3 separate regions of the Homo sapiens genome follow, and all the other regions are linked to region 2. The links come from fine-mapping of genetic effects on gene expression. A gene starts in region 2. Each other region holds a variant in brackets. All regions are shown on one strand. Distances are between the middles of the regions.

Region 1 (8,157 bases), 41 kb after region 2:
GCGGGCCCTTCCGTCCCCTCTGCGCCGGCGTCGGGGCCTGGGCTCCTGCAGCCCTAGGGTTCACTTGCCCGGGTCTGCCGCTCTGCCACCTCCGGGGCTCAGAAATGAGAGAGAATCCTGCTGCGGTCGAATTCGGGCCCAGCCCCGCTCCAACTCTCAGAGGGACACACAGCCACGGCCTCAGTCTCCCCATCTGTCAAATGGGGTGAAAGATCCAAAGGGCACAGAAAGTCTGGACCGGCACAGGCAAAGAAAGCCAAGACCTGCTGCACCCCGCATCCACCTGTGCCTGGGCCCACCGTCACCCCAAGGAGAGACAATTCCCTCTCTTCTCCACGTGGCAGTTTGCCCTTCCGGAAGAGCCTGTGTCCCAAACCCCACAGTTCCTGGGACTCGGCATCTGCCACATCTGACTCTGGATGTCGGGGGACCCCCTTCTGTCTTCCTTCTTGTGGTCCAGCCTCCAGTCCCAGGTACCCCGCGAGCCCCTGATGAGGACCTGTGGCTACAGCCCCAGCCGTGGGGACAGGAGCAGGGACCCACTGCTACCCTTGCAGGGCTCTAGCTGGCCCCCACAGCCCCTCACCCTCTGCATTCTCCCTCCACTGGACATCCAGCTCACCTGGGGACCTAGGGACCAAGTCCCTGGAGGAGTCCCCTTCTCAGACGACTCCTGCCAAGCCAGGCAGGGTGGTGAGGGAGCCCAGAGGAGGGGTCATATGACAGGAAACCCAGCTTCCCTCTCCACTACCTCCCTCCTCCCCTCTCACCCCATGGTTTCCTCTGCTTTAAACTGAGGCCAAGCAGGCACTTCCTGTGGGCCCCTGAGATGCAGAGGTGAAGGTGACAGGCGTAGGCCACTTGGCCTCCCAGGGAGCTCTGTGCATGCTGGGCTGCGGGTGGCCCACCCTTCCCCTCTGCACAGGAGTCAGGGCCTGGTCTCCTGCAGCCCTAGGGTCCACTGGTCCGGGTCTGCCGCCTGGCTGCCTCCAGGGATGTCCAGCCTGCAGCTGAGGCCCTCTCTGTTCAACTCCTTCCAGCCTGGATAGGCAGGACTTGACCTCGAGGCCTGAGCTGGGAGCCTGACATGGGTGGGGATGGGAACGGTGGGGGCACAGGGGCCAAACTCTTTATCTGCCGGCCTCACCCTGGAGGGTGTGATAATGACAGGATGGTGGGCTCCCCAGAACCTGGCTGCTGGGTTTCCAGATACTCTTGGTGTTACTGCTGTACTTCCAGCCCCTGTCATTGGCGTTATGGTTGTGCCAAGACCCAGGCCTAGCACCTGGCCGGTAGTAAGTGCTCAGGAATTGGCTCCATTCATGCTCTCCCAGGCTAGATGTTTAAGACATATCTTTGCCAATTCTCTGTCCTTGGGCCCCTGGGAAGCCCGCAGCCCTTCCTCTCTGCTCCCTCTCTACCTGCTATAGGGCCCAGTCATCTCAGGTCTGAATGTTCATAGCTTTTCTGCCTCTCTGCCCACCTCCTTCCTGGTTTCCAGAGTCCTTTCTGTGTGTCAGGCGCAAGCTATGTGCTGGTGCTGGGCACACAGTGGGCTGGGGTAGGAGGGGGCACAGAACCACAGATGTACATGTCAATAGGAAGTGGTAGGTGCTCCACCAGGGTTCAATCTGGGGAGGCTCCCCAGAGGAGGTGGCATTCATGCAAATTCAGTGTGGGTATGCAGGGAGGGGGAAGCAGTGGGAGGAGAGGCAGGGGCTGGGTCTCCATGCCAGGGTGCCACTTGCCAAGAACCAGCTTGGGGTAGCCATCTGAGGACCACACTGGCAGCTCCAAAAGGCCCCAGCCTTGACCCCTGCCTGGTCCTCGCTTTTGCTTGCCTGCTCTCCCCTGCAGCAGTGCCCTCTCCTGCCCTCCTGGGCCCCAGCTCACATTCACCCTGCCTGCTTCATGGCTTCTCCCCGCCAGGAATGACCCTCCCTTCCAAATGGGCTTGGGGTGGGGGGTACAATCTCAAAGGCAGTTTCCTCCATAGAGTTCCCAGGTGGACCACTAAGTCTCCTGCTTTGGCTGGGGGCACCCTAAAGGGTGATTAACTTCTCTCAGCCTCAGTTTCCTCATCTGTGAAATGGGAATATCAGTGCATACCTTCCTGGCTCATGGGGAATAACAGAAAACAGGGCAACGGGTACAGCACCTGGGGACAGTCACCTAAGTGTCAGCGTGTCCTCCTTTTCATCCCCTCCTCTCCACACAGCACACAGGAAGTGAGCCAGAACTCTTGCTAGATAAACAATGAACCCCGCCCAGGTGTCAGGAGTGGGAGATAACCAGGCTCCCCCCGCCGGGGTCGGGGAGAGTCAGCAGGAGGCTTGCGGGGGCGGCGGGGGGGGGGGCGCTGCCCAATCTGGAGTGAGATACTCTGTGTCCCTGGGGCTTTCGGCGGCATCTTACTTGGACGATCCCTAACCATGGGAAGCAGATGAGTCTGGAAATATTGCCCCTTTTTGGAACTTGGGGAAACTGAGCGTCAGAAAAATTGGGGACTTCAACCAGGGGCTGGAATGAATCCAGCCCAGCTCAGACCTCAGGAGGAGGGGTCGGAAGTTGGCAGGGGAGGAAGGCATAGTCGCCGCGGGGCGCCCGGAGGAGGGCGGGGGCGCCGCGGGCCGGGCCGGGTCACGTGATAGCCGAGGCCCGCCCCCCCCCCCCCCGCCCACGTGGGCCGGGAGGTGCGGCTACTCCCCCGGCCCCGGCAGACCTGCGACTGGCCCAGTCGCCCCTGGGGCCCTTTGCCACTCCCTTGGCAAGGAGAGCCGAGACCTCAGTTCCCGGCGGCTCTTGCGGGGCACAGGTGAGCCCTGGCTGCGCGCGCGGCCCCTCCTCCCCGGCGCCTCCCAGGTGAGCGGCCGCGATCCCGGTCCCGGGTCCCGCCAGCCCCAGCTGCTTCTCCTATGCGGGGACAGCGGCAATCCCCCCTGAATTCCTTTCGGCCTCTGGGGCCATTTGGCAGCCGAGTTCCCTCCCCGGGTGCTCCTGGAGCTCCCAGGGCTTGACCCTCCGGCTCGGACAGAGCTGGGAGCGGCAGGGGCGGGGAGGACAGTGCGGGGAGCAAAATCCGCAGCCCCCACCCAGGTCCCCCAGCCGAGCGCCAGGGCACGGGGAGGGGAGGGGAGGGGGTGTGGCCGGGATGGGAAGGGGCGGGGGACAGGGAGGCCGGCTGGACGGGTTCGGTGGCCCCAGAGTTGCAGCCGCTCTGGGCTCTGGGGCCAGGTTGCGGTTCTCCCTGGGTAGCGGCTGCTCCCGGGAAGCTCGCTGCCGGCTGGGGTGGGGGTTCCTGGAAACGGGCGCCACCCAGCCTCTCCCCACCTAGCTCAGGAATGGTGCGCCTGGAAACTCCGCTGGACTTGCCTGGGCCTCGGGGCGGAGTGCTGGGGCGCTGGGTGCCCGAGTCCCCGGGTTCCCTGAGCTTAGAAGGGCCTGTCTGGAGGAAGGGATTCCAGCTCTAGGGACTGGGTGGGGCGTCCTCAGCCCCTCTTTCGGCAGCTGTCCCGTGTTAGGCTGGGTGGGGCCGCCTCGGACCCAGCTCTGGGCTGGTTTTCCCACGTCTTTGCTCCTGCTGGAGGGAGGGGGTGGTGTGGGGCCTGGGCCCGAAGATGGCACCCAGGACACTGAGGGAGGGCGCCGTCCGGTCCTGTGACTGGCACCCCTGCAAGGAGCTGCTCTGTCGGGGCGCCCCCGGGCTTTGCCTGTCCGAGGAAAGCGCCCTTCAACCCGGCCGACTTTGAGCCCTGAGTTCCTGAGGGTGAGCGCAGGAGGAGTCCAGGGCAGAGGCCGGCAGGACTCGCTGGTGGCTGGGAGCTGAGTCCTGGCTCCACTCTCACAGATGAACGGGCCCCGAGCCCAGGGCCCCAGACAAGGCTGCTCTGGTTCCAGTTGTGCCGGGTGACGGCAGAGCCAGGACAAAGGAGGCCTGTTGAGGTCCTGGCCACCCCCAGCCGGCCGCCCTGGGATGATGGAATGCAGGGCAGTGGGTCTTCTGAGAACATGAGGACCTTGGCGCCC[T/C]GACGGCGGTGGCATGGAGTGACCTCTGTGTGTGGGGGAGGAGCCCCCTGTGCTGCTTCCGCCTGGGGCTGGTTGGGGGTGAGGGCTCCAGCAGCTAATTTCCTGCTAGAGGAAGTTCTTTGAGGTCACAGGGCAGACGCAGAGAAGGCCTACAGCCTACTCTGACCTTTCTCTCCAAAAAGGAGGTGTCTCTGTGCCAGAACCCTGGGCATGGAGATCCTGAAAGGGGCTGTGTCTACAGGCACCCTACCTCTTCCCCATTTCCCAGGGACTGGCGACATCGAGGAAACAGATGTGGAACTGCAGACCCCACACCCTTCCTTCCTCTCTCCCCTCCCCTGACACTGGAGGGGGCCCCCCATTCCATTCTGGCATGAGGCTTATTCGGTGCCTCACCATTTATGTACCTGGGGTGATAGGGGGGTGGGCGGGACTGTCTGGGCTGTGAGTGGCACCTCCTGTGGTTCCCCCAGGAATGGGTGGTGTGGACAGCTGCCAGGCGTTGAAGACCACCCCTGGCTCTGTGCCCCTGTCTCATCAGATGGGGGCTCCGGAGGTGGCGCCCAGGCTCTGAGCTACCCTAGGTCTGCAGACTAGCGGGCATTGGCCAGAGACATGGCCCAGCCACTGGCCTTCATCCTCGATGTCCCTGAGACCCCAGGGGACCAGGGGTAAGCGCTCTGGGGCTGGGGGCTGGAGGCTGGAATGTTCCACCCCCCACGGAGAGGTCACCTGAGCAGGGGCTGCTGGAAGGAGAGAGGTGGCTGGAGCCTGACCCCCCCGCCAACCCCCTCTGCAGCCAGGGCCCCAGCCCCTATGATGAAAGCGAAGTGCACGACTCCTTCCAGCAGCTCATCCAGGAGCAGAGCCAGTGCACGGCCCAGGAGGGGCTGGAGCTGCAGCAGAGAGAGCGGGAGGTGACAGGTGAGCTCAGGCCTGGATGCTGGGTGGTGTGGACCAAGACTTGGGTGCCCCAGCCCCTCAGGACGGGCCTCCCAGCTCTGCAGGCCTGGGATGGGGTGGGAGATACTGTGGCCAATGGCATCTCCAGGACCCCTGGTGAGTCTTTCTTGCTTTGTAGGAAGTAGCCAGCAGACACTCTGGCGGCCCGAGGGCACCCAGAGCACGGCCACACTCCGCATCCTGGCCAGCATGCCCAGCCGCACCATTGGTGAGTGGGACCCTCAGCCTCGGCCTCGGCCCCGGCCCCGAGTTGACCCCAGTCCCTGGGGCTGGGCTGGGCTTCCTGCCAGGCATCTCCCTGGGTAGTGGCTGCTCCCGTAGCTCAGAGCCAGGCCCAGGGCGGGCTCCTAGCCCATCCCATCTGCTGCCTGGGGGCCCAGCACAGCCCCATGTGGCCCTCGCTGGGCTCCAAAAATGACTCCAGAGTCATCACGGGGTAAAAATAGGCTTTCGGAATGCAGTGGTGCCTGAAGTCTTTGTTGAAAGGATTTTCCTGGGTCCTGGGAAGGGGTGAGGGACGCAGAGGCCTGTGGTGAGCCCATCCTGAGGGGAGGGAGGCCTGGCCCTGCCCGGCCCGGCCCTGCCCAGCTGCCTCCATAGGCCGCAGCCGAGGTGCCATCATCTCCCAGTACTACAACCGCACGGTGCAGCTTCGGTGCAGGAGCAGCCGGCCCCTGCTCGGGAACTTTGTCCGCTCCGCCTGGCCCAGCCTCCGCCTGTACGACCTGGAGCTGGACCCCACGGCCCTGGAGGAGGAGGGTGAGTGAGTGGGCACTGGAGCCCCAGTGGCGGACACCGGCCTGGGGTGGGGTGCAAGAGGCCAGCCTGGCCTGGGCGGTGGCTGGGGTGCTGCAGAGCCAGAGGCCCCTCTCCTATCCCTTAGCAGGCTGCCTGAAGGCCCCCCCGTCCCTCTGCAGGGACCCACGGGGACAGGGAAGTGGGGGTCTTACCTCACAAGCGCCTTGGAGTGCTTGGAGGGCTGTGGCCCTGGGCCCCGAGTCGGGGACCGTGCGTGGGAAACAGGCCCCTGTGCTCTGTGAGCTTCCTGCTTGTCGCTGACTGAAGCAAACACACGGCTGATTGGCGACTGAAGCTCAAATAAGGGCACCGAGGTGTCTCGGGACGGTGCCGCAGGGACACACAGGCCTGACCAGGGTCCCGGCTTCGGGCTGCAGGGAGGGGCACTTGGGGATGGGCAGGACCTCCCTCTCCCTCTCGCAGAGAAGCAGAGCCTCCTGGTGAAGGAGCTCCAGAGCCTGGCAGTGGCACAGCGGGACCACATGCTTCGCGGGATGCCCTTAAGCCTGGCTGAGAAACGCAGCCTGCGGTGAGCAGCCCCGACCCTGACCATGCCGCCGCTGCTGCGCCCCCAGACCCACTTCCTCAGCTGGGCTAGGTGGTGGGGGAGAAGGGGCTGAGCCCGTGGGTGGCCGGTCTCCAGGAAGGAGAGAGTCAGGCCCCTCATTGGTCCAGGCACCTATGGCTGCCTCTGTCCCCAGAGAGAAGAGCAGGACCCCGAGGGGGAAGTGGAGGGGCCAGCCGGGCAGCGGCGGGGTCTGCTCCTGCTGTGGCCGGCTCAGATATGCCTGCGTGCTGGTATGGGCCCCTGGTCTGCCCTGGGGCTGGGGCGGCTGGGCAGGGCTGGGGTGGCCTCAGTGCCTCCTCCGGCCTCACCCTCAGGGCCTCTCTGCCTGTGCCCGCAGGCCTTGCACAGCCTGGGCCTGGCGCTGCTCTCCGCCCTGCAGGCCCTGATGCCGTGGCGCTACGCCCTGAAGCGCATCGGGGGCCAGTTCGGCTCCAGCGTGCTCTCCTACTTCCTCTTTCTCAAGACCCTGCTGGCTTTCAATGCCCTCCTGCTGCTGCTGCTGGTGGCCTTCATCATGGGCCCTCAGGTCGCCTTCCCACCCGCCCTGCCGGGCCCTGCCCCCGTCTGCACAGGCCTGGAGCTCCTCACAGGCGCGGTGAGGAAGCCCTAGGACTGGGGGACGGGGGGTGCCTGTCTTCTGCTACCCTGGTACCGTGTTCCCTTCTTGTCCCAGCTCCCCTGGGGCCCCCAACCCTTGCCCCGCTGTGACTCCAGGTGGCCACAGCCAGCTCCCCGCCTCCCCCTCAATGACCCTGGATGCTCATCGTGCTGGGGTTCCCATGGGGCTGGAGGCCCAAGATTGCTGTGGCCAAGGCCCCTCCCTGTTTCCCTCACTGCCCCTGCCTGGCCTCCTCCTGCTCTGCCCCTGTGGCTGTCAGGCCTGAGGGTCGGGTGGGGCGTGGGGAAAGTCCCTGACTCGGCTGGATCTCCCTGTGGCAGGGTTGCTTCACCCACACCGTCATGTACTACGGCCACTACAGTAACGCCACGCTGAACCAGCCGTGTGGCAGCCCCCTGGATGGCAGCCAGTGCACACCCAGGGTGGGTGGCCTGCCCTACAACATGCCCCTGGCCTACCTCTCCACTGTGGGCGTGAGCTTCTTTATCACCTGCATCACCCTGGTGTACAGGTAATGCCTCCACCTCATGACCCAGGCTCCGAGCTCCACTCATCCATCCATTCATCTTTCGACCCATTCATTGATTCTTCCCTCTTCCTTTCTTCCTTCTGTCCATCTACCTGTCTGCTCTCATCCACTCACCTATCCAACTATCCACTTACCCACCCATCTACCCATCCATCTACCTACCCACCCATCCACCCATTCATCCATCCACCCACCCATCCACCCACTCAATTCACCCACCCATTTACCCATTCAGCCATCCACCTACCTATCTACCCACTCAATTCACCCCCCCATCCACCCACTCAATTCACCCACCCATCCATCTACCCACCCATTCACCCAATCAGTTCACCCACCCATCCACCCATCCACCCATTCATCCATTCACCCACCCATCCATCCATTCACACATTCACCCATTCACCCATCCACCCACCCATCCACCCATTCATCCATCTACCCACCCATCCATCCACTCAGTTTAACCCACCCATCCACCCATTCATCCATCCACCCACTCATTCATCCACGCATCCATCCATTCGCACATCCATCCACCTCCTTATCTATCCACCCATTCATCCACCCATCCGTTCATCCATCCACCCATCCACCCACACATTTATTCATCCATCCATCCACCCATCCACCCATGCATCTACGTATTCCACA
Region 2 (8,158 bases):
AATACACTCGGCACAGACAGAGTCTGGGAGCCATGGGGCACCCCTGCCCTCCCCAGGCTTCCTAAGTAACAACTGCAGAATATTTACATAAAGCTGGGTGTTGTCAGGCAAAGCCCTTCCCTGCTGCCAGGGGTGGGAGCAAGGAGGAAGTGCCATGAGCACCAGCCCCGCCCTCACACCACGGGAGGCAGCCCAGAGGCCACCGGCACAGGGTGGTGGCCCCCAGATCATACAGCAGTGGGCACAGGGGAAGCAAACCTGAGTGAGGACACAAGAGCCTGGTCCGGCTCCGCTGCACAGGGCAGGTGTGATGGCCCCCACGAGTCTTTGGCAGAGAACGCAGATAATAGCGGCTCCCACGGCCTGACCCGGGCCGGGGGGAAGCTGAGGCACTTGTCAGTAGCACATGGGCACCTGCTGGCTTCTAGCCACTGCAGGCGGGGCTGAGGTCATTAAAAGCGAGGAAAAACACTAGCTAAAAACCCTTTCCTAAAAGTGCCCTGGAGGAGTGAGCGGCTGACTGAAGCCCTCTGGGCACAGGCACTTGGGGTGTGGCTCTGCCAGCCCCCGCCAGGCTATGAGGCTCCTTAGCTGTGTGTCAGCTGCACAGGATGGAACAGGTGAAAGAGAGGGGCTGGCAGTTCCAGGAGGCTCATGGGAAAGTCCAGGGCAGAGGGGAGGGCCCTCTCTGTCCCCCTTCCCACGCTAACCGCCGCTCAGTACACAGGGGGCGGCTGGTAGCCCTCGGTGGTCTCCGCGTTCTGGGTGAAGGGTGGCTGTTGGTAGTTGTCCACAGATGCACCTGGGTAGGAGGCGTAGGCAGTGTTGGGGTCCGGAGTGGGGTCAACGTAATTCTGGATGAAGTCGTCCACGCCAGCCTTGTAGCGCTGGTAGGCCAGGGAGGCCAGCACACCCTGCAGGGGGAGCACAGCAGGGTACAGGTGGGTGGGGGACCCCACCCTCCACCACCCTTGACCCAAGAACCGGCCCCTGGCCATCCTACCCAGGAGAAGATGGAAAAGAAGCTGAAGGTGATGGCTGCCCTCACAGAGTCGGCCCCCACCAGCACGTCCTTCGGGTTGGTGACTGCCCACTGGTTGGTGAGGAAGCAGAAACCAACAAACCACAGGAAGGTCCAGAGAGCTGGGGGAGGACGGGTGAAGCGTCAGTTCCATGGAAAGGGAGGGGCTTTCCAGGACTCTGGGAGGGGACGCGGGCAGGTAGGGCAGGGACCTCCCGGGGGAGCCTCCACACTATGGAGGGGAGGACTTGGAAGCCGGGCCGGGAGCCACCTCCAAAGTCCCCCACACTCGGGCCTTGGCAGGGTGGGCCACAGCAGACAGCCTAGGGGACAAAAGGGGCAGAGGCAAAGCCCATCTGCTCGGGTGTGCTGCAGGTCCACTCAGCTTCTAGCTACCCCAGGCAGGGCTGGTGCCATTCAAGCACGGAAAAACACTAGCTGAAAACCCTTTCCTAAAAATGCCCTGGAGGAGTGAGCTGCTCCCTGCCCCTCCCAGAGAGGCCGAGACCCTCCCAGCTGCGGAACCCTAGAGTTAATGCCTCCCCCAAGATCAAATGGAGGTGCCACAGGCAGATACCTGAGAAGAGCAGGTCACCAATGACCAGGTACTTGCGGTCAGTGGCGTTGCTGATCTGGGGGAAATACGCGTCGACCACCAAGAAGAAGGCCGAGGCCAGGAAGGCCAGCACCCCGATGGCACTGCCATAGCGGCAGGCATCCTCGTTGCGGTTGAACACGCAGTACATCTGCTTAGACTCGTGGGCATTGCTGTAGCCCTCACCATAGATGCAGGAGAACACGATCAAGGCGAAGACCTGCCGGGAGGGGAGGACCTGGTAGGGCTGGTGGCCGCCTGAGGGGCACACACAGCGGGGACCCTGATGGGGTGTACAGATGCTGGCCTCTCCCACTACTGCTGTCCCCTTTTGGGTTTTTGTTGTTGTTTGAGATGGAGTCTTGCTCTTGTTGCCCAGGCTGGAGTGCAATAGTGCGATCTCGGCTCACTGCATCCTCTGCCTCCTGGGTTCAAGCAATTCTGCCTCAGCCTCCCTAGTAGCTGGGATTACAGGTGCCCTCCACCACACCCGTATTTTTAGTAGAGATAGGGTTTCACCATGTTGGCCAGGCTGGTCTGGAACTCCTGACCTCAGGTGATCCACCCTCCTCGGCCTCCCAAAGTGCTGGGATTACAGGCATGAGCCACCTCGCCCAGCCTGCTGTCCCCTTTTGGAGGCTGACATCTTAGCCCCTCCAAACTTGTGGAGGTGAGCTGATGAGCAAAGTGCTTCCTGATGCACCCCAGGATGAGAATCTGCAGGCACCAGGGGGCCTGCCCCTGGGAATCCTGGACCGGGGAGGGGTGGGGAATGGGCAGGGACCTCCTAGGCAGGGGCTGCTCCTGCCCCATCGGCCTGCTGCAGGAATCATTCTGCTTAGGTACCTGATGGATGAAGGGCAGTCCTTCCATCCCCAGCCCAACCTCACCTTGAAAGAGGTTTAACCAAGACAGGCCAAGTCACAAAGACTACCCATCCCCCGTCACCTTCAGCCCAAGTCACTTCTACAGCACCCAGCCTCTGCCTGAACACCTTGGTGAAGGTGGACAGGCCCTCTTGGGAAGGCCATGCTGGCGCCCCTGTGTCTTCACCTCCTGGAACCCCTGGAACCCTCCCTGGTTCAGCCTGGCCAGCTGTCTCCACACAAGGACTTGCAGCCTCTGTGGCATCCTGGTCCCTCCCAGTCTGTCTCCCACCCCACAGAGGGCCCTGCATGCACAGGGCACTACAAGGGGACTAACTCAGGCCTGTGGATACAGCTCTGAACTCAGACACCTGGAGGACCCAGGGTGGATGTAGGGGAGCTCCAGCCCCTTGGGAAGAGCCCCATACCACCTCCCTAAACTTGAAGGCCACCACCCACGCCTGCTCCACCTCAGCAGGTGTGGGACAGGTCTGTGAGCATCAGGATCCCTCTGGGATGGCCCCAGGACTCTCCCCTGCCAGTCCTGCCCTGTTGTCCCAGGGAGCTCTCCATAGGGCTCTGGAGCTGGCAGTCACAGGCCCCGCCCCCAGATGGAGATGAAGCCGGATCTCCGGGATGATGGGAGCAGGGTGCCCATCCAGGACTCCTGGCACTGCCATCCCGACCCACTGGGCACCTGATTCTTGGACACAGCCCAGGACAGAGGCGATCAGATCCCACAGCCTGGCTGGGAGCTGGTGTGGGCGCCCTGGAGGACCTCAGAAGCTCCAGGCCCAGGCATGGTCTGGGCACAGCAGGCCCACCTCTGCCTGCCCCCTCATGCCACCCCCTCCAGCTTTCAGGGCTGGCTGTCCAAGAACAGGCCCCCTCCCCGCCACACACACACACACACAAAACCTGGTTTTGGAGGTATTGCCCACCTTACAGGGAGGGGGTACATCTTGGGGTCCCTCAACTTCGGGTGGGAAGGCGGACCCGTGGCCTGCCCCGAGTGGGAAGGACACCCTGTTTCCGGGCGTTGGGTCGCCCCCCGCCCCCTCCCTTACCCCACGTGGCTTCGGAAAACCCCGTCCCGGTGAACTCCCCAATCTGGGAGTCGCGGCGTGCGGGCCACCTGTCCGGGAGCCGCCCCCAAACTCCTCCCACTGCCAGCGAGGCAGGGGCCCGCTCCCTGCGGAGATCCGGACACCCCGCGTCGGGGCGCGAGGCTGGGGGTGGGGTGGGTGGCGGGACCCGGGACCGGGAGGGGACAGCGGGACAGACTGTGGAGGGCGGGAAGGCGGGGCCCGGGACGCTGGACGCCGGCCCCGCTCGCCGCCAGGCCCCGGACGCGGCCGCCGCCACCTGTCGCGCTCGTGGGCTAGGGGCCCCGCCGGGCCTGGCGACGGAGAGGGGGTCCCCAGGGTGCCCTCGGCCCGCCCTCCCCGGGCTCACCAAGCACACGGCGCGCGCCACCACCTGCGGCTGCGTCAGGAAGCGCCGCAGGTCGAAGGAGCCGCCCGCCTTGGCCGCGCCGTAGGCCCCGCTCTCCATGTCGCCGTCGCCGCCGCTGCCGCCGCCGCGGAACGCAGAGGAACCTGCCCGGCGCCCCGCCCGACTCCACCCGCCGGGGGCGTGGCCAGGCGCCGCTAGGGACCGAGGGCAAAGTGCGGCCCTCGCGAGCGGCGGGCGAGCCGCGGGACTGCGCTTCTAGAGGCGGGGAGGGGCTGTGGCCGCGGAGCACCCGGGTCCACCCCACCTCGGGGTTGAGGGGCTAGTCTCCGGGCCACGCCGGCCGCAGCACGGACCAGAAAGGGTCAGAGAGTCCCCCGGGAAGACGGACGAACTGAGGACCGCTCACCCTCTTTGCCCCTGCCCTCCCACCGCCTCCTCTAGGAAGCCCACCACCTACCAAGAACCCACCCAGGCTCATAAGCAACCCCTCCCCCATCCCACTGAAAAACCCAGGCCACACCCTGGAGCCCCTCCCTGCCTGGCCTGCCACTCTTTCCTCCTCTCTGGGGCTAAGCCTGGGGTAGGGTCAAAGACCCCCTCCCCATTCCTCCTGGTCTGGGCAGAGCCCCAAGGCTGTGAAGGGCAGTGTGGCGTCACACTTAAGATGGTGTGCAAGGCCGGGAGCGGTGGCTCACACCTGTAATCCCAGCACTTTGGGAGGCCGAGGCGGTTGGATCACCTGAGGTCAGGAGTTCGAGACCAGCCTGACCAACATGGAGAAACCCCGTCTCTACTAAAAATACAAAAATTAGCCTGGTGTGGTGGTGCATGCCTGTAATCCCAGCTACTCGGGAGGCTGAGGCAGGAGAATCGCTTGAACCTGGGAGGTGGAGGTTGCGGTGAGCCGAGATTGTGCCATTGCACTCCAGCCTGGGCAACAAGAGCAAAACTCTGTGTCAAAAAAAAAAAAAAAAAAAAAAAAAAAGATGGTGTGCAAGGCCGGGCGCAGTGGCTCACACCTGTAATCCCAGCACTTTGGGAGGCCGAGGCGGTTGGATCACCTGAGGTCAGGAGTTTGAGACCAGCCTGGCCAACATGGTGAAACCCCGTCTCTACTAAAAATACAACAACAACAAAAAAATTAGCTGGGCGTTGTGGTAAGCGCCTGTAATCCCAGCTACTTGGGAGGCTGAGGCAGGATAATTGCTTGAAACCGGTAGGCAGAGGTGGCCGTGTGCTGAGATCGAGCCACTACACCCCAGCCTGGGCAACAGAGCAAGAGTCCATCTCAAAACAAACAAAACAAACAAACAAACAAACAAACAAACAAAACCAAAAACGAAAGTTAGCGAGGCGTGGTGGCAGCTACTAGCAGTCCCAGCTATTCCAGAGGCTGAGGTGGGAGAATTGTCTGAGCCCAGGAGGCGGAGTTTGCAGTGAACCAAGATCACGCCTTTGCACCCCAGCCTGGGTGACAGAGTAAGACCACATATCGGCCGGGCGTGGTGGCTCACGCCTGTAATTCCAGCACTTTGGGAGGCTGAAGCAGGCGGATCACGAGGTCAGGAGATCGAGAACACCCTGGCCAACATGGTGAAACCCCGTCTCCACTAAAAATACAAAAATTAGCTGGGCATGGTGGCGCGTGCCTGTAGTCCCAGCTACTTGGCAGGCTGAGGCAGGAGAATCGCTTGAACCCGGGAGGCGGAGGTTGCAGTGAGCCGAGATTGCACCATTGCGACAGAGCGAGACTCCATCTCAAAAAAAAAAAAAAAGAAAAGACCACATATAAAAAAATATATATATGGCATGCAAACAGAAATGAAGTTTTCAGGGCGACAGGCAGATGGCAAAGTTTAATCCAGTTCCAGTTCAGCCCCCTCTCGCCTCCGTCCCTCTCTACCTCCATCCCAAGAAAAACCGGTACAGAGGGTCTGGTGCAGGGTAGGCTGGGGCAGGCTCTGTGTGTGTTGGAGTGGGGAGCGGAGGTTGTACAGACAGAGGTGTGGGATCACAGGCTGACTGAACCCGGAAGAATTCCAGACCCCCCTTTGCTAGTTGCAGGTGCAGATTAACAACAGCAGGTGTGCCAGGTGGGGCTCACAGTCAACCCAGGTGAGCTGGACCACGTGAGAGTTGAACCATAGGACTGGGCCACCAGGAGGTGGGGTGCCTCTCCAGGGAAGAGGGGAGCAGGTGGGGGGGAGGGGCTGGGCCTTTTCGCAGTGTGCCCCCCTCCCTCTCCCTACACCCAGAGAGATGTGACAGCACCTGAGAGGCGAGGACAGGGCCACACAGACCCCCTTATTTCTGTGACCCTCCTGAAGCCCTCACACCAACAGTGTCTGTGTTTGCTGAAGGCCACCAGCACTCCAAGAATCCCAGCTGGCAGGCTTTTTTCTTTTTTTTAAATAAATGTTTTTGTGTATATTTAAGGTAGACAACCTGATATGATGGGATTCATATAGATAATATAGATAGCACAAAGGTTCCTATAGCGAAGCAAGTTAACATATCCACCATCTCTCATAGTTACCCTTTTTTTTTTTTTTTTTTTTTTGTGGCAAGAGCAGCTAAAACACACTCATTTTGCATGAACTCCAAATACGAACAGTGCACGCTGATGGCCTGCAGTCCTCTGCCGTGCTTGGCTCTCTGGACGGTTCATTCTACATGGCTGCTGCTTTGCGTCCTCTGACCTCCCCATTCCCTATCCTGAACCCCCCAAACTCCTCTTCACTCAGACGGCGGGTGCTCCTGTAGAGCGGCAAGGCAAGGATGGGGCTCTCCAGGGGACCCTGCCAGTCCTCCATCTTCTGGTCACCACCTTGACAAAGCAGTGGAGACTCAAGTCAGGCAGGCTCACCTCCCAGCCATCCCCTCCCGAGGCGTCTGAGAGTGTTCGTTTGTTTTGAGACGGAGTTTTGCTCTTTTTGTCCAGGCTGGAGTGCAATGGCACGATCTCGGCTCACTGCAACCTCCACCTCCTGGGTTCAAGTGATTCTCCTGCCTCAGTCTCCCGAGTAGCTGGGACTACAGGTGCGCACCACCACGCCCGGCTAATTTTGTATTTTTAGTAGAGACGGGGTTTCTTCATGTTGGCCAGGCTGGTCTCGAACTCCTGACCTCAGGTGATTCGCCTGCCTCAGCCTCCCAAAGTGCTGAGATTCCAGGCATGAGCCACTGTGCCCGGCCTGCCTCTGGGAGTTTTATGGTGCCAAGCACATCAGTGCCCCAGCAGAAGAGACATGAGGCTTACTCACCCCACTAAATGAAGGCTGTACCCCATTTTACAGAAGGAAAAACTGAGGCTCGGCGAGGTGACATGGCTCACCCACGAGTCTGGCTTCTGGAAAGAACAGACTTGGTAGAAGTGAGATGGGAAAGTGCCAAGGACAGACTCCTGGTAGAGCCACGTAAGGGCCTGGGCCACGGGCAGAGGATGAGAACCAGGACACGGCAGTGTCTCCCAAACAAAGAGAGATGAGTTCACAGAGGCAGGGCTGGCCACCACCAAAGCCAGACAGGCAGAGCACACAGGCCTGTGGTGCCTGCACTCAGACACTACAAAGGCCTTGGTCACTTTACATGTTAGTAAAGCCATGGCCTTGGAGAGGGGACCCTGGGAGGCTGGGCCCCAGGCTCTTGCCACCACCTCGGAAAGACTGCCCAAGGTGGTTCTCACAGAAGGCAGGAGCTCCTGGTCCACCTTGGTCTCCTGGAGGCATCATCCCTGCAATCCCTGCTCAGACCCCATAAAGAACTTAGGAGACTGCCCTCCCAGAGGCCAGCAGACTGTGTTACAGGGCACCTGGGAGCACTGGTCAGGGTCCGATAACGCCTTGAATGTGTAAGCCTCAGTAGGCACATGGCACACAGTAGGTCCTCATAAACACCTTCGAGTCATGCGTAAGCGGTGATGGCCGCTCTTTGCCCTGGCCACAGCCCTGCCCTGCAAGCCCCACCACCTGAGCTCTGCAGCCAGGGCCCGGTTGGACCTCTCAGGCCATCAGCAGCTCTCCCTCCTCCCTGCATCGAGCACCCATTTCCTACCTGGCCCACGTGGTCCAGCCCAGCATCCTGGAGGTGATGGCCGCAGTGGAGGCAAGGCTGCCAACCAGCACGATGGTGGGTGCCCTGGGCAACCCTCCTGGGAGGGGGCGGAGGCAGCTGGGTTGGGCTTCCTTTAGGCAGGGGCCAGGGTGGGCATGGTTGCCTCCT
Region 3 (8,166 bases), 28 kb after region 2:
GACCAGGGAGTGGCCAGAAGGATGGTGGGGAGGCAGGTGCAGGTGTCCTGGAGGTCACTGCAGACTGGCTCTGTTGACCCCTCGGTGGCCCCCTCTCCCAGCTGGCATGAGTCCGTTTCTGCACCTTGCTACCCATGGTCCCGGGGATGGAGGCTGCCTCCTGTGCACCCACCGGCCTCTCTGTTTTCGGTTTCTCCCAGCTGGGGAGCAAGAGCATTTTCTCTTAGTTTCTTAGTAAAACTCCCTTCCCTTCCCAAAGTCTGTTCTCACTTCTGCTGAAGGCGGGTGGGGAAGGGAACTGAAGACTGAAGGGAGCCAGAGGTCACTGGGGAGCTGGCTGGCTGCCCAGGCCCTGGGCTGCTGGCAGCCTCTTGCCTGGAGGCCAGGGAAACTCACTCTTTTTCTCCACGTGGTGGTGTTCAGGGGAACCTTGAGTTAAGGCAGCTCATGAGGAGCTCTTCCTCTTCCCAGTCTGTGGGGAAGCTGGGGTCAGAGAGCGAAGGCAGACTCATGGGCCATTTTCCCCAGGCCTTGGGGGACCCAAACATCTCTCCTGCACCCCTCCGCCCCCAGGAATCACTTGTGCACCGGTCTGGCTGACCAGTTCTCTGGGCTGCGCTGCCCCTCTGTCCAGACTGCAGAGTAAGCCAGGACACAGCAGCCACGCCTCCAAGGTCACCCCCAGGTCACCCTGTGTGGAGTTTGGGGGCCCCCAAAAGCTCTCTAGCCACCCGCTTCAGGCTGATGTTCTGTGATTTTTGCTCGCAGAGGCCACTGTCCTCTGTAACAAATGCTCTTCCCAGCGTCTCCGCGTTTCCTCCCCCATACTGTGTCCCCAGAAAGGTCCTGCGGGTGGGACTCTGCTCTGGGCTGCCCTGGCCAGGATAGCGGGGTTGCAGGGGCACAGAAAGACAGGGCAGTCTCTCAGGGCTGGGCAGGGGAGGGCCCAGGAGTCCCCAAGGCTGGGGGTGGCTGGGACACCCCACCTAGGTGGGCTCTCCCACCTGGTGAGACCTTTACTGCATCTATTGCAATAAGCCCCAGAGAGTCCCTCCCTGCCCGGCAGGACTTCTAAGCTCCTGGCAGAGCCCCTTGTTAGGTCATGGCCCCCAGCTCCGTCATCTACAGAAAGTCATCCTAGCCCACGGCACCCGCTGCCAGAGCACCGGTTCCGTCTTCGCACTGGCCCCGTGTGCCCTGCATCCCAGTCTAGAGGCCTCAGATTTCCAGCTTCCCAGCCTCCACCGTGGCCCCTTTACCACATCTTTGCTCAGGCCCCCTCTCTGCCCTCAGCTCCTGTCCAAAGCCTCCCTTTCTCCAAGGTCCTGCCTGTCACTGGCTCCAAGAGCCCTCCTGTGGGAAGAAGCCCATCGCTCGAGGCCCCCTGGGCTGTCTTCCTGGGTGGTCCTGATCACAGGGGGCCCCAGGTCCACTCCCCATCATCTCCCATTTGGCTCCTTCAGGCCAGTGACCACATTGTAATAGGAGCCGCCACTGCACTTCTAGGTCCCCATGGGGACACTTCAAAAGTCACTGTATGGGCCGAGTTTGGTGGATTACACATGTAATCTCAGCACCTTGGGGGGACGAGGCAGGTGGATCACCTGAGGTCAGGAGTTAGAGACCAGCCTGGCCAACATGGTGAAACCCCATCTCTACTAAAAATACAAAAAATTAGCCGGGTGTGGTGTCGGGCACCTGTAGTCCCAGCTACTCGGGAGGCTGAGGCAGGAGGATGGCTTGAACCTGTGAGGCAGAGGTTGCAGTGAGCCAAGATCTTGCCACTGCACTCCAGCCTGGGCAACAGAAAGAGACTCTGTCCCCACCCCCCAAAAAAAAAAAAAACACACACACAAAAAGTCATTGCTCATTTAATCTTGGAGGCCACTTGGAGGAGCATGGCGTCTTTGTCTCGCCCTGGGTGAGCACACCGAGGCCCAGAGTTTGATGATTCCTTCAAGGTCTCAAAGCTTGCCTTCTTCACAGCGCTTGGTGATGCACGTGGTTGTTTCTCAGTATGGTTTGCCAAAGGGATGCTCTGATTCAGGAGGCTGAGGTGGGGCCTGGGAATGTTCATTTCTAACCTTTTCCCAGGTGATGCTGAGGCCACTGGTCCAGGGGCCACCTTTGGCCCTAAGCCGCTAATTAACAACATGAGTCACTTTCATCTGGTCCAGGCTTGTCGCCCCCTCGATGGAACACAGAGCTCCCTCTTTCCCTCTTGGCCTCATCACCAGCCCCCAGAACAGGACCCAGCACTAGCAGCACTGAATCGTGTTTGTTGGTGAACTGATGCGTCGTGATGCTGGGTGAGACAAGGACGGCCGTGGGAGAGGCGGAACTGGCCAAGTCTTTGATGACCATGTGAAGAAGCCCCCAGCCCTGAGGGCGAGAGGCCAGAGCCTCCCTGATGCTGAGTCCAGACCAGGAGTCCAGCCAGGAGCTGGTCACTGGTGGAGCTAGAGGCTTTTCAAGTGCATCCTGGGACTTCTGACCTTCCCTCCTGACAGTTCTCATCCCCAGCTGCCGGTGAGTCACCTGGGAGCTTCGAAAAGTCCCGATGCCCTGGCTGCTGGCCACACCCAGCCCAACCACATCAGAGTCGCTGGGCTGTGGCCAGCTTGTAGCAGCTACTCAGGTGTTCTCCAAGGATGAGAACCACAGATTTAGTCACTGCAGCATGGCAGGGGTGGGGGTGGGAGAACAGGAGGCTTGGAAAAGGAAACTCGAACAGGCTCAAGAATATCAGACACAGCCTTGGGAGGGGGGCCGGGCCCTGCCCTTGTGGCCAGCTGCCTCACCTGCCTGGGCCCCCGCCCGCTGCTCACGATGCAGGCCCGTACATACCACTAAGGCCCAGGCGGTGCGGGTACCTTCACCCCACGGATCCGCAAGCTTGGCTCAACCAGGGAGCCATGAAGCAGGCTGGGAGAACACGGCTCTGCAGGAAGCCAGGGCTCTGCTGAGTTTCACAAGGCAGCTCTGTGGACGTGAGGCTGCTAGGTTAGAAGACTGGACGGAGAGGATTCCCGCCAGGGAGAGGCTGACCCAGCACGCTCTCACCAGGCTTCAGTCAGCCCCTCAGTCAGGGCCAGGAGCCGCCACTAAGCCCCACACTGGGGCAGTGTGGCTCTGGAGCCCGAGTGCCTGGGTTCAAATCCCAGCTCTGGCCCTGGCTGACGCTGTGGCCTCGACTGTCTCAGGTGAAGGAAGAGTAACAGGAAGGGATGATGCAGGCAGTTTGCAGCTGGAACACAGAGCAGGGCCCCAGGCAGGCTTGCTCTAACTGTGGCCAGCTCTTTCCTTCCTTAGGAAGTGGTTCCCGGACTCTTCTGAAGGCACTTCCATCAGTAAACAACTTCTGAGCATTCCCAATAGATGTATGTGTATAAATTGCACTCATGGCTCTAAAACAAATCAGCAGAACACATTCTAGAAAAAATCGCATTCAAGAGATACTATACTAATAGATTATGTATATTATAAAAAACACAATAAAAAATAGACATTTTAAAGGGATGAGATTAAAATATAGAAAGAAAATTCCCATATGTTTTTCCTGCTGCCGCTGGGGTTGTGTGTCCATCTTTGGGGACCTCTGAGGGAGGCCCTGGAGCCACTGAGAGGGGCGGTGGTCGCCAGGGGTCTGGAAGATGGAGTAAGGAGGCCTGAAGGGGCCCCAGGGAGGCTTCGGGGAGGCAGGGGTAGGGGTTACAGCTCCGCGCCGCTGGGGAAGCGGAATCTGCGGGCGGAGGCCGGGGCACCGTGCTGTCCAGGGCAAGGGGAACGCAGTCCCGCGGCATCCACGACGGAGGGGCCCGGCCGCGGGGCCTGGTGGCCCGGGGAGCCAGGGCATGGGCATCCGGGGCAGAAGGACTGCGGGCGCGAAGCTTGGGAGGCAGGGTACTTGGGGCCCGGAGAGTCGCTCGGGCCTGGCTCCGGCAGCAGTCGCGACAGGTCCTCCACCAGGTGCCACTTCTCCTGAACCTGCTGTGAGGAGAACAAGTGGCGAGTTGCGACAGGCGCTGCTTCCCACGAGCGGGTGTGAGGACAGCAGCGGCAGCAACTCTGCGGCCCATGGGCCAGCCCGCACCCAAAGTAGCCAGAGGCCACGCCCCGCCCGAGGCCACGCCCCGCTCGAGGCCACACCCTCCCAGGGCCACGCCCCACCAGGGTCCCGCCCCGATGCAGCCCTAGACCACGCCCTCAGGAGTCCCGTCCACAACGCAGCCAGATGCCACTCCTTCCACGTCCCCGCCCGAGACCACGACCTCCAAGGGCCCCGCCCCCAACGCACCCTGAGACCACGCCCCACTAGGGTCCCACCCCATGCAGATCTAGACCACGCCCGCTAAGAGTCCGTCCCCAAGCAGCCCAAGGCCACGCCCCCGGTAGAGGCCCCACCCTGAGGCCACGCCTTAGCCAGGTCACTGTTCCTCCCTCAGCTCCATTAAGCCCCTGGCCCCAAGCCTAAAGTCGTAATTTTTTTTTTTTTTT[G/TG]TGGAAACTGGGTGTCTCCCTGTTGCCCAGGCAGGATTGCAGTAGCAAGACCACAGCCCACTGCAGCCTGGACCTCTCAGGCTCAAGCGATCTTCCCACCTCAGCCTCCGGAATAGCTGTGACCACAGGCACGCGCCACCACGCCCAGCTCATTTATTTGATTTTTAGTAGAGACGAGGTCTTGCTATGTTGCTCAGCCTGGTCTCAAACTCCTGAACTCAAGCACTCTTCACGCCTCGGCGTGAGCCACTGCACTCAGCCATGTTATCCTTTTTTCCTTTTTTGAGACGGAGTTTTGCTCTTGTTGCCCAGGCTGGAGTGCAATGGGGCGGTCTCAGCTCACTGCAACCTCCGCCCCTCCGCCTCCTGAGTTTAAACGATTCTCCTGCCTCAGCCTCCCTAGTAGCTGGGATTACAGGCGCCCACCATCACGCCCAGCTAATTTTTTGTATTTTTAGTACAGACGGGGTTTCACTATGTTGGCCAGGCTGGTCTTGAACCCCTGACCTCAGGCAATCCACTCACCTCGGCCTCCCAAAGTGCTGGATTACAGGCACGAACCACCGTGCCCGGTTTTTTTTTTTTTTTTTTTTTTTTTAAGTAGAGACGGGGTTTCGCTATTTTGGCCAGGCTGGTCTTGAACTCCTGACCTCAGGTGATCCACCCACCTCGGCCTCTGAAAGTGCTGGGATTACAGGCGTGAGTCACCACGCCCGGCCACATTCTCCTTTTAAAAAATTAATTACTTATTTTTGGTGGAGACCAGGGTCTTGCTTTGTTGCCCAGGCTGGTTTTAACTCATGGCTTCAAGTGATCCGATCCTCCTGCCTGGGCCTCCAAAGCGTTGGGATTACAGGCAAAGGCCCAGCCCCTAAGGTCATGTACTTACCAGGTCTGGCTCCTGGTCTCAGGAGCCCGAGCTGTTCTCTTCCTCCCCTTCCCCGTCTTCACTCTCAGCCTGAGGCCACGCCCTCCAGTGGGAAGAACCCACCTGACCCGCTCAGACGTGTTCTAGGCCCTCGGCCACACATAGGGAAGGGTTTCCACTGAAGCTGCTGTCCCCTCACCAGCCCCGAGGACACTCACCCACACCAGCTGCTTCCGGAGCCTGTGGATGGCCCTGGCATTGGCCTGGGTCTGGGAGACGCACACCGTCAGGACAAGGCTTGGGTGGGAAGGGGATTCGTGGTCAGTTGCCCCTGGGGCCACAGGCGCCTCTCCCTGACTTCCTCTCTCCCCACCTCAATCTCTACAATACGCGGTACTGGGGTCTTCTCACTGCACACTGCTGTATCTGAGGATGGGACCCTCCTCTCCTTCCTCGCAGAGCCCCTCATCCCCTCCCCTCTGGCACAGCAATACCAATAGCTCAGCAGCTGCAGCCACCCAGACACGGTGCTTCCCCAGTGATCCTGCAATCCCCATGGCAGCCCAGAGGGTGGGCCCAGGAGGTTCCTGCTTTTCAGAGGCCCCTGCTTCCCTTGGCTTTCTGCGTCTGGCTCCTGGTTGGGGGTGCACAGGCTCACCACCCCCATGGAAGGAAGGACCTCCCCCTCCAGGTGTCCCCTCCCATGGCCCCGGCTGCCCTGAGAACCTGAGCATGATGAGGAGGGGGAAGCTGAAGGCGTGGGAGCCCAGGTAGTGGAGGGCACGCTGGCCAATGGGCGGGAGCCCAAGGGCCACCAGCTCCGGGACCACTTGCCAGGGTGCTGAGTAGTTGGTGAAGAGGCCGCAGTCCCAGGAGGAGTGGATGCTGGCGAGAGATGGCCAAGTGGGGCTGGCATCAGGGTCCTGGGTGAGAAACTGCCCCTGCCAGCCTCTGGGTGCCCCCCTCCTCTTCCCCTCACCTGCTGACCACATAGCCCAGGGGCACTGCAGCCAGAAGCAGGCCCAGGAGGAGCACTAGCTGGAAGAAGAAGGTGGAGCTGGAGGCACGGAAGGGCCGCGAAGATGCCCTGGAGTTCTTCAGGAGGGTGTACTGGGGGCGCAAGCAATAGCAACCAGGAGTCAGCGAGTTATGCAGACCCCAGGGGGCTGACACCCAGGGAAGGGGGCAGGAGCAGGAGCAGGAGGCGAGCCCAGCTCAAGGCATCCACCCAGAGGCACGAACCCCATACCCCCCAGCCATGAGCCGTCACCTTCTTGATGTAGAAGGTGAGGAAGAGGAAGACGCTATTCAGCAGGGGCAGCAGGGGGCAGTAGAAGAGGCCCATCCAGGTGACCGTCTGCCCCGCCACGATGTCCAGCACATTCTTGGGGACCAGGAACTCCTCCCGTTCCAGCCAGGCCCAGAACCGGCCTGAGAACCGGTCCACCAGCAGCCTGCAGGGATGGGAGGGTCCAGGTACTCACCACTCCAGACAGATGCGTGGGCTGTATTGGTCATGGCCACAGCCTGCCACTTACTCCCGGGCTCCACACTGGACCCGCTCACCCTTGGCTGTAGCCACTGGCCACCCCCAACATGCTCGCGGCACCCCCGCCCTTCTGGAGGTGTCACCCCGGGGCTCACCTCCGAGGCAGGGTGACCAGGAAGGCGAAGGCCACGGTGAGGAGGAAGTTGAAGATACTCAGCTTGTACAGCTCCTCCCCCACGGAGTTCTCCCAGCACTGGGGTGCAGGGGAAGGGGACCCGTCACCACTCACGGCCACCCCGGCCCTTCCTTCCCTTAGCCTCCTGTGAGGGTTTCTGTGGTGCAGGTGCCTTGCCTGGTGTCTGATAGAATCGTTAGGTTGAAACCCAGGCCTTGAGGATGGGATTAGAGCAGGAAGCCCCACAGCCAGGGCAGCCACACTACACCATGTGGCAGCAGTGGCGCCCCCTGGAGGTGTGCGGCGGTGCAGGCAGCCCTGCTCACAGCTTCTCTCAAAGGTGACTAAAGGGGCAGGAACAGGGCTCTGCACAGTTTGAGGTGAGCTTTTTGGGGAGAAGGAAGGGAGGGACAGGCCCCGCCGGGCTGCCAGCCACCTGATAGTCACAAACGTTGTAGCCGTAGGACTCACAGCTGCTCTTGTCTCTGCCAATGCACAGTATGGTCTGACCCAGGGAGACGGAGAACATCCCCAAGCTGGCCAGCTTCAGCACCACGCACCTGGGGGCAGGGACCTTGTCAGGTGGAGGGGCCCAGGCACATGGGCACCGGGCTCTACCCAGGCTATAGGTGTGGCTGATGTCCGAGTGGGATCATGTTGTGTCCTGGGCCCAGCCTCCTTCCAACCTGCTCTGTCTGTGGCAATGTGGTCCAAAGTGCGTTCTCAGAGTCCGAGTCTCCAGGCGATTCATGGGAAAAAGGGTTCTGTGTTTTCGTTTTGTTTCAAGACCGAGTCTCACTCTGTCACCCAGGCAGGAGTTCAGTGTTGTGACCTCGGCTCACTGCCACCTCTGCCTCCTGGGTTCAAGCGATTTCTGACTAAATTTTGTATTTTGAGTACAGACAGGGTTTCGCCATGTTGGCCAGGCTGGTCTCGAACTCCTGACCTCAGGTGATCCACCCGCCTTGGCCTCCCAAAGTGCTGGGATTACAGGTGTGGGCCACGGCGCCTGGCCAAGGGTTCTGTTTTTAGATCAGTTTGAGAAACACTGCACAGTCCAGCCATGTTCCCTCATGCCTGGTGTGGAGAGGCACATGCAGCAAGCCCTGCGGTGGAGAAGCCTGTGGCCTTTTCAGG

Direction of the effects. Alleles are on the strand shown, and positions count from the first base shown. SD is a standard deviation of normalised expression in the study named. Not every link is listed here.
As copies of G replace TG in region 3, the expression in monocytes after LPS of the gene that starts at base 4,072 in region 2 goes up (large effect, 0.83 SD a copy in Fairfax 2014).

Evidence for each region. PIP is the estimated chance that this variant, and not a neighbour inherited with it, causes the effect.
Region 1: its variant is the best candidate, but not a certain one, in a credible set for the expression of SYNGR2 in whole blood (INTERVAL, PIP 0.84).
Region 3: its variant is the best candidate, but not a certain one, in a credible set for the expression of SYNGR2 in monocytes after LPS (Fairfax 2014, PIP 0.85).

The regions. Positions count from the first base shown.
Region 1 is chr17:78,123,317-78,131,473 of GRCh38, reverse strand. TMC6 (transmembrane channel like 6) reads left to right here and starts at 2,719. Exons shown (of 20, transcript NM_001127198.5): 1 at 2,719-2,862; 2 at 4,568-4,697; 3 at 4,826-4,950; 4 at 5,108-5,197; 5 at 5,590-5,748; 6 at 6,211-6,316; 7 at 6,489-6,585; 8 at 6,693-6,950; 9 at 7,295-7,485. The coding sequence starts at 4,642. It overlaps TMC8 (transmembrane channel like 8), which reads right to left and starts at 703. Exons shown (of 16, transcript NM_152468.5): 1 at 623-703; 2 at 1-193. RefSeq lists silencers at 1-15, 2,626-3,155, 4,426-4,505, 4,556-4,605, 6,436-6,685 and enhancers at 496-625, 3,836-4,085. The variant T/C (reference allele first, on the strand shown) is at 4,027.
Region 2 is chr17:78,164,495-78,172,652 of GRCh38, reverse strand. It overlaps SYNGR2 (synaptogyrin 2), which reads right to left and starts at 4,072. Exons shown (of 4, transcript NM_004710.7): 1 at 3,938-4,072; 2 at 1,599-1,836; 3 at 1,004-1,143; 4 at 1-914. The coding sequence starts at 4,036. The coding sequence ends at 717. C17orf99 (chromosome 17 open reading frame 99) reads right to left here. Exons shown (of 5, transcript NM_001163075.2): 5 at 6,356-6,764. The coding sequence ends at 6,607. RefSeq lists enhancers at 711-780, 8,092-8,158 and silencers at 3,610-3,769, 3,800-4,409.
Region 3 is chr17:78,136,658-78,144,823 of GRCh38, reverse strand. TMC8 (transmembrane channel like 8) reads right to left here. Exons shown (of 16, transcript NM_152468.5): 10 at 7,466-7,589; 11 at 7,010-7,107; 12 at 6,636-6,819; 13 at 6,345-6,475; 14 at 6,092-6,250; 15 at 5,584-5,662; 16 at 1,856-3,990. The coding sequence ends at 3,712. Among named protein-coding and RNA genes, the nearest start is that of C17orf99, 5.6 kb to the left of the region's middle. RefSeq lists silencers at 864-933, 2,202-2,496, 4,018-4,207 and enhancers at 2,489-2,568, 2,211-3,410, 5,047-5,686, 5,801-5,970, 6,521-6,690 and 4 more. The variant G/TG (reference allele first, on the strand shown) is at 4,498.